Homo sapiens: one gene and its partner. The protein of the gene in region 2 purifies or fractionates together with the protein of the main gene of each other region. This does not show direct contact. Each region holds a gene or a part of one and is shown on either strand. Other genes may lie near its edges. The genes, in order: FBXL17 and KLHL25.

Evidence for each region.
Region 1: the proteins of KLHL25 (region 2) and FBXL17 purify together in Homo sapiens (co-immunoprecipitation; one large-scale study listed by IntAct). This does not show direct contact.

What each region holds. Positions count from the first base shown.
Region 1 is NC_000005.10:107,878,410-107,882,227, forward strand, and holds part of FBXL17 (F-box/LRR-repeat protein 17), read right to left. Parts: intron 2,771-3,818; coding exon 2,628-2,770; coding exon of another isoform or gene 2,454-2,627; exon of another isoform or gene 1-2,453. UniProt on the Homo sapiens protein: Substrate-recognition component of the SCF(FBXL17) E3 ubiquitin ligase complex, a key component of a quality control pathway required to ensure functional dimerization of BTB domain-containing proteins (dimerization quality control, DQC).
Region 2 is NC_000015.10:85,767,189-85,771,006, forward strand, and holds part of KLHL25 (kelch-like protein 25), read right to left. Parts: intron 3,391-3,818; exon of another isoform or gene 3,308-3,390; intron 2,633-3,307; 5' UTR 2,623-2,632; coding exon 853-2,622; 3' UTR 829-852; intron 1-828. UniProt on the Homo sapiens protein: Substrate-specific adapter of a BCR (BTB-CUL3-RBX1) E3 ubiquitin ligase complex involved in various processes, such as translation homeostasis and lipid synthesis.

The DNA of each region.
Region 1 (3,818 bases), on a different chromosome or scaffold from region 2:
GTATGTTAACTCATTCACATGCTCACAATTCTACAAGATAGGTACTAGTATCATCCTCATTTTGCAAACGAGGGAACAGGCACTGAGAGGTTAGTAACTGCCCGCGGTGACACAACTAGTAAGTGCAAAGCCCAGATCTGAACCTGAACTCTGGCTCTCCGCAGACCATACCGTTGCTACTAATTTCTTTTCTTTGTTACTCATATCTTCCTTTGAATCTTGATGGTAACTTAAAATCTGGAGATGGATGGCATGATACAAAATCTGAAAACTGAATAGCTACTTTAGATTTCCATCCAACTAAACCAACAAGCAGGCTTTTCTGTGCAAGGCTTTACTTGTGCTTTGTGTGTGGTTTGGAACTGTCTTCCATCCTCACAGAGCCTCTCGTGTTTGGCTCTGAGCTGCTTTAAGTCTGAGGAAGCCAGACAGCAAGGCTGGGTCCAGCATCTCCCTGGGCTGCACTGCAGCAGGCTCTGACCAGACGGCGTCGTGCTGGAGCCAATGGGTTCTCAGAGTGGCTCTCTGGTTAGAGAAAGGATTCAGAGGCAGCCCAGGAAAAGGGCTAAAACCCTCAGGGATACAGCTAATCTGAATACTGTCTCTATTTAATTTTGGACTAATTTGCATTTGGGTAGAAAATAACCCATTTCTTAACTAAAAATCAGCAAAATGCTGGTCAGCAAATATGTCTGGAATAACATTCTCCTGTAGTAACTGTAACATACAACTTCTACAGTGTATCTCCGAAGATGGAGCTGATCTTAACCATCTAAAGATTACAGGTTAGAAATATGACAATTTCTGAGAATGGCTGCGGACACATATGTATGAATGTGTACATTTTGGTAGCTTTAGTTAGCATTCATGTGGCAGTTCCTTCTGCTGGAAGCTGAGGAGTTCTGCTGTCATTGATTCCTGTTTCTAGAGGACTATGCCTATGGTGGACCCTTTAACTTGTCTTAAAAGAAGTCATTTTAAAGTGGCAGGGTTAGCAGCGGCATTAGGTTGGTTAGTGGAAAGATTTGTGGGAGACTCGCAAGCCCCGGATCTCAGTGCTGTTGCTTAGTTACAAAGTAAGTCGCTTCTGGGCTGGGCTGAGAATATATAATAACATTTCTCTAAACATAACTAGCTGGCAAAGGTCTCGTATAAGTTGGGATTCTAAAGTGTTTGGAGAAAAGAATTAGCCAATTAACAAAAAATCACAAAGGACACAAGAGCTTTGGGCCATACTTCATTTGCCCCCACATTTGCTACATTTAGAAGATGCATGCCCTTTGAATGGCGTGTCTATTTAGTTTCACATTATTTTGCTAGATTTGTTCCTAATCACCATTTACAAAAGTAGCACACATGTGTAAATTAGTACAAGATGGCGGCACTTTCTGAGCAAGTATCTGAACTGGACCTTTTCCAAGGGAAGCAGTCCCCGTGGCCACAGACTGCCCCCTGGGTTGTGCCAGCAGCACTGGATACAGACTCCAAAGACCCGGCATGAAGTCTTGCCAGAGTATCCTGGGGCCACTGACTGGTCTTTCTGAGCCTCCATTTTCTCCCCTTCACAATGCAAATAACTATTTCTTAGACTTGTTATAGGTAAAACATGGAATAAACAAAGAAGAAAACACCTGTGGAGTGCCTGGTGTCCAGTATAGGTTTTTTTTGTTTGTTTGGGACACAGTCGTGCTCCGTCATCCAGGCTGAGGTGGTTGCGGCACAATCACGGCTCACTGCAACCTCGGCCTCTTGAGCTCAGGTGATCCTCCCACCTTAGCTTCCCGAGTAGCTGGGACTACAGGTGTGTGCCATTATGCCTGGCTAATTTTTTTTTGTTGGGGGAGAGGGGGATAGAGACAGGGTTTTCCCATGTTGTCCAGGCTGGTCTCAAATTCCTGGGCTCAAGTGATCCTTCTGCCTTGGCCTCCCAATGTGCTGGGATTACAGGTGTCAGTATAGATTTTTATTATCTGTTTTCTCAGTCTTCAAAGGGTCCCACGTTAAATGCTACACCATTTCCTAAACTCATGCTCACATCCCTGGCTGGTTCTACAGGCCTTCCACCAGGACCTCTGGAACCACTTCTTATCATGTGCTGGGAGTGGCATCTGATGTATGGGGAGATGCAAATTCCCACATACCCCCTTACTGGCCCTTTGTTGGTCCCGAATGGCCAGAATACATAGATGTTCAGTACCAAAATTACACACTTGTGAAAAACCAATTTGGCACTGTTCTTTCCACCTTTACTGTTGCTGGAAACTTGAAACCCAGAATACAATTTTACGGTTAGACCCTGCAAATTGCAGTTTGTCATGTAATCTTTTACATTTTGGTCCATGGACTTATGAATAGGATGCCAAACTCTAGTTGACTATGTATATGATTACTTTTTCTTTCTACTTAAGCACAAAATTCATTATTAAGTGGGGAAATACAAAGATAATCTCAGATTAGTTTACAAAAGCAGGCAAACAATGCATAGCTATAATTGCATATATACATATAAAATGTATATATAATATATAATACACGGGGGTGGAGATAGAGAAGGAGAGAGGATATGACATCAAGCTATTAACTATACTGATATGTAGAAAGCAAACAACTTGATAGTCAACTCTTACTTTATCACATCTCATCAGCCCCAAATATCTCAGAGACTTGCTGCTCTGTGCAATCAGGGTGGCTCCTTGGTCTGTGATTTCTTTACACCATCCGACATCCACAGTCTCTATTGTCATGCTGTATCGCCCAATGGCTATCAGTGCTGCAAGAAGGGACGCAGAGAAAGCATTAATGTTAGCAGTGTAAGGGAGCTCTATCTTATTATGACTATTCATCTCATTTCCTCACTAAATTTGTTCCTGAAATTTTGTGTGTAAATGAACGTTTTATAAACTAAACTAAATTTGAAATGCTTTAGGAAAGCTTCCCTATGACAAACCCATTTGCAAAGTGAATAATCATTCCATAATTTCCCTTTCATTGAACACAACCTTTTATCAGTTTTATTCATTACAAGGTTACCTGTACTTTCAAACATTCAGCTCTGCAGAAGGAATAAATTAAAATGTATTACAGATACAACATTTAAAAAAACCCAAGTACTAACTTAATTTTACCCAAGATAACTTTAATTTTTTTTTAAAGAAGAACCCACGTAAACACCATTTTGAGGAGTGTTATACTGCAAGTGAATGTCTTTACCAATTGGCATAATTTTTTCCATCTGTTCATGACCTGTAAAATGTAAAAGTATAAAATATTTTTCACATTAGCGCTTCTTGGGACTGTTAGGAATTAAGAGTACATCATACATACTGCTGATTTTAATTGGTGCCATGCTAGAGTGCAGTAAACAGAATGCATTTGTTATGGTGAATTTCCTCATCCTATCAGAAGTCTTCCTTCTATTAACATACAAAATGAAGCCTGTCGTCTGTAAACTATGAGAGTATCTGTAGTCTTCTCGGCTGTTTAGCATTGTACCACCACTAAAGTGCAGACACTTATCCCATAATCTATGATGTGCACTACTAATCACTGCAAAGTCCCATAACCCATCACCCCATCACAGCGACCAAGTGGTGAATGTGGCTCTTTTCTACCGACTTTGATAAATGTGCCCACCTTTATATTTAAGGAGCCCAGAAAACAAATTTCAATACCCCAGCACCAGTTTATGGTGCACTGGTTTGTGAATCAAAACCCTGAAAACAGTGCCACAAATATCAAAAAGAAAAGAGAAATGGTTTTCTGATAATTTCCTCATTCTAAGATAGCATAAGTTGATTTCTGTGACAATAAAGGTGAAT
Region 2 (3,818 bases):
ACTTGTTAGCCAGGATGGTCTCGATCTCCTGACCTCATGATCTGCCCACCTCGGCCTCTCAAAGTGCTGGGGTTACAGGCATGAGCCACTGTGCCCGGCCAGGACTGACTTTCACATTGCCCAGGCTGGTCTTGAATTGGGCTCAAGCCATCTGCCCACCTCAGCCCTCCTAAAGTGCTGGGATTATAGGCATGAGCCACCATGCCCGGGCCTGGTTGGCAATCTTCATACATATCATCACTCATCAGTGCCAGGAGAGTAACACTGTCCTGACTCCATGGGGAGGGGGCCATTCTCCTGGACTCTGCCTTAGTACATGTCTCTTCCCTTGGCTTATCTTAATCTGTATCTTTCCCCTATAATAAACTGTAACTGTGAGCATAACAGCCTTCAGCGACTTCTATAAGTCTTTCTGGCAAAATTGACCGAGGGTGGTTTGGGAGGCCCCCTTTGTTGCACCTGGTGTCAAAAGTAAGAGCAGGCTTGTGTGGAGACTGCACCCTCAGACTCTGCAGGTTGACCTATGCTCCACACAGCACTGTCAAAAGGTCCCTGGGTGATTCTGAAGTATAACCATGTTTGGGAACCACCATGTTGGTCTAACCATGGTTACTGTCCCCATTTTGCAGACTGGTTCAATAATTTGCTCCAGGTTAACTGCAAATAGAAGGCAGAGCCAGGATTTGACTCCAGAGCACACCAGCCACCTGCTGCCCACCCAGACTTCCCTGGAAGACACGGTGACCTTCACCCAGTGGGAAGAGGTGGGACTGCATTCCCCCATGACCTTTCCGGACCCAGAGTGGCCGTGGGCTGCCAGGGACTCACCTGGCTGGGCTCAGCAGGTGCTCCTCACGCGGGCAGGTGCTTCCAGGTGCTGACAAAGGCCGTGGGGATAAGTGAGTAGGGCACTGTGGTGATGCAGTTCCATGTATCTGAAGTGGGGTCATAGCAGTCCAGAGTCTTACACCTCTGGGTCCCAAAGTAGCCCCCGACCACATAGAGCTTGTTGCCGGAAGCCAGGGCATGGCAGGACATGCGCTTGGCAGTCATGTCCCCAATCCGCGTCCACTGGTTGGTCTCACAGTCAAAGCGGTAGGCCGAGGCGGCTGTGAATTCCGTGTCACCTCCCATGATGAAGATCTGGCTGCCCAGGACGGCAGCGGCTGTGTACCGCCAAGGCTGGGGGCACTCGGCCTTGATCGTCCACCTGTTCTCCGAGGGGTCATAGCACTGGACCTTGGACACCATGTCCCGGTGGATGCTGGTTCCTCCGAAAACAAAGAGCTTCAGCTTGGCACTCACCACTGCGGCATTGCTGACGCCATCCCGCAAGGGGGCCACCATCATCCACTTGTTGGCCCCAGGGTCGTATTTCTCCACTTGTTTCAGGGAGACAGAAGGCGAGGCCGGGAAGACCCCTGCCAGGGATGTGTGTCCCCCCACCACATAGAGGCAGTTCTCCAGCTCAGCTGAGCCATGGCCAAAGCGGGCAATCAGCATGGGCGCCGCCTTGGACCATTCCTCATGTACGGTGTCGTACACCCAGACATCCTTGGAGACCCCGTTCTCGGAGCCCCTGCCCCCCGTCACATAGACCTTGCAGCCGATCGCTGAGGCGCTGAACTCCTTCCGGGGGCTGGGCAGGTCGGCCTTGGGGATGATCTCCTTGGCCTTGTGGTCCACCTGGTAGATCTTGTCACACATGAAGGTCTGGCCCCCCAGGATGAGTAGCGTGTGGCCCGCCTTGCGTGGCCGGGCACAGGGGCTGGTGACCACGCCATCATTCTGCAGGATCCTGGTCTTGCAGCGCAGGGCCTCATCCATGATAAGCTTGGTGCGCTCGTCTGCCATGAGGAGGGCCTCGCTGGAGACGGCCTCCTGCAGGCAGTCGGACGGCAGCAAGGCCAGACGCACGCTGCGGAGGAGCTCGGGCAAGTGGACCTTCCGTGGCTCCAGGTCGTGCTTCACCCACTGGAGGATGGCCTCGAAGACCACCCGCTCGTCCTCGGTCTCCAGCTCATCACTCGAGATGAGGTCCAGCAGTGTGTCCTTGGACAGGCTGTTGAAGTCCTCGCTCTGCCTCACCGTCTCAAAGTGCACCAGGCACATGCGCCAGGAGAACTCATACAGCCGGCGGCACTGGTGGGCGTCCGAGAGCAGCATCATGCCCAGGCAGTTGGAGGGGAAAAGGTTCTTCTCCAGGAACTCGGCGGCAGCATCCCGCACATCGTGGAACTGCAGCATGTCGCCTGCCTCCAGCAGTGACTCAGCGTTCTCCTCGTTGATGGCGATGCGTGAGGAGTAGGCAAAGTCCAGCAGCAGCTCCAGCACCTCCGGGTGCAGGTTGTCCTGGAAGTTGACAGTGTCATCCCGGCTCTCCCGAAGGCCATGGCTGAACATGGCCTCAAAATAGCGGCTAGAGGCGGCCAGCACGGCACGGTGACAGGGGAAGGCACGGTCGCCCGCCCAGAGTGTGACGTCGGTGAACATGCAGTGCTTGCGAAGCGTGTTGAGGTGGGCCAGCACACAGTCCGGGTGGGAGGCCTTGTGGAAGAGGGTGACGTTCATGGACCCCGTGCTGCTCCGCGACTTGCGGGTCTCATGGACACTGACCGACATGGTGCGTCAGCTTGTGGGGGAACAAGCCCACAGGTTAGAGGAGCCCCTCCTGCCCATCTGCCCTCTCAGGGCTCACTCTTCAGCACAAGCCCCCTTGTCCCCTCCCACCCACTCTCTGCTCACCTCTGCTAAACCAAGCCCCTCTCCCGCAACCACGTTGCCAAGGACAACACAGGCAAGAGTGGCTGGGTCTCACCCTGCCCTGCAGAAACTGGTTTTGTTCTCAGGGTATGAGCCAGCTCTGGGACAAACATCTCTGGCCTGCAGATGAGCCACCCCCTAGGCAAGCTCCAGTTGAGGCTGCCTCCCATGGTTAAGAGAACATGCAAACGGTGTTCCTGACTGAGGCTGGTGTCCGGGCAGTGCTAAGTAACTGGTGCCTTTGACCACATTCCACTCTCATGACAGTCCTCTACAGAAGCTTCTCTTGTAAGTCCCATTTTAGAGCTAGGGAAGCCACAGCTCAGAGAGGCCAAGAAACTACCCAAACTGCCACAGCCAGGATTCTCACATGGGCTGTCCGGCTCTGGAGCCTGATCTCTGTTCAAGGTGACTAATCCCTGCAGGGTTTGCTGTGGACGCCCAAGCAGAGCCTCACGTACCCACTTCCCTGCTCCCAGCAGGCTCTGCCCTGGGCCGGGCTCCAAGCGGTACTGGCTAGACATCCCCCTTGCCTTGGAACAAGAGCCGCCATCAAGGCCCAAGTGCTCAGTGGAGACATGTTCTCTGAATCCAGGTGTCTCCACAGGGCTCTTTACCTAGCTGGGGCAAGTGATGGCTTGGAGGTGGGGCCGCCAGTGACTCACCCTCGAGACCAACGCAGAGGCCCAAGATGACAGCAGGACATGCCGAACCCTAACGGAAGTGATCCAGATTTGCCTCAGCAAAGCAGAGAAACACGAAGCCAGAGCTTCCCAGGTCCCCCAGCTGACGCCAGGATCCTGGGCCAACGCAGCGCCTCCCCTGCCTCCCTTGCCTGCCCTTCTCCACCAGGCCTGGGGACCTGGCGCTCAGAGTGATGGAGTGATGGCCAAGAAACAGGTTCACTACTTGCTCAATCTAGGGGAATTCTAAAGCACTGTCATTAATGTCCAGTGAATGGCATGACCCGAGGCCCCAGTTCAGTACTTTGAACTCAAGGCTCAGCCAACAGGCGGCAAAACTCATATACCTAGAGAAAACATGGCCAACACCCT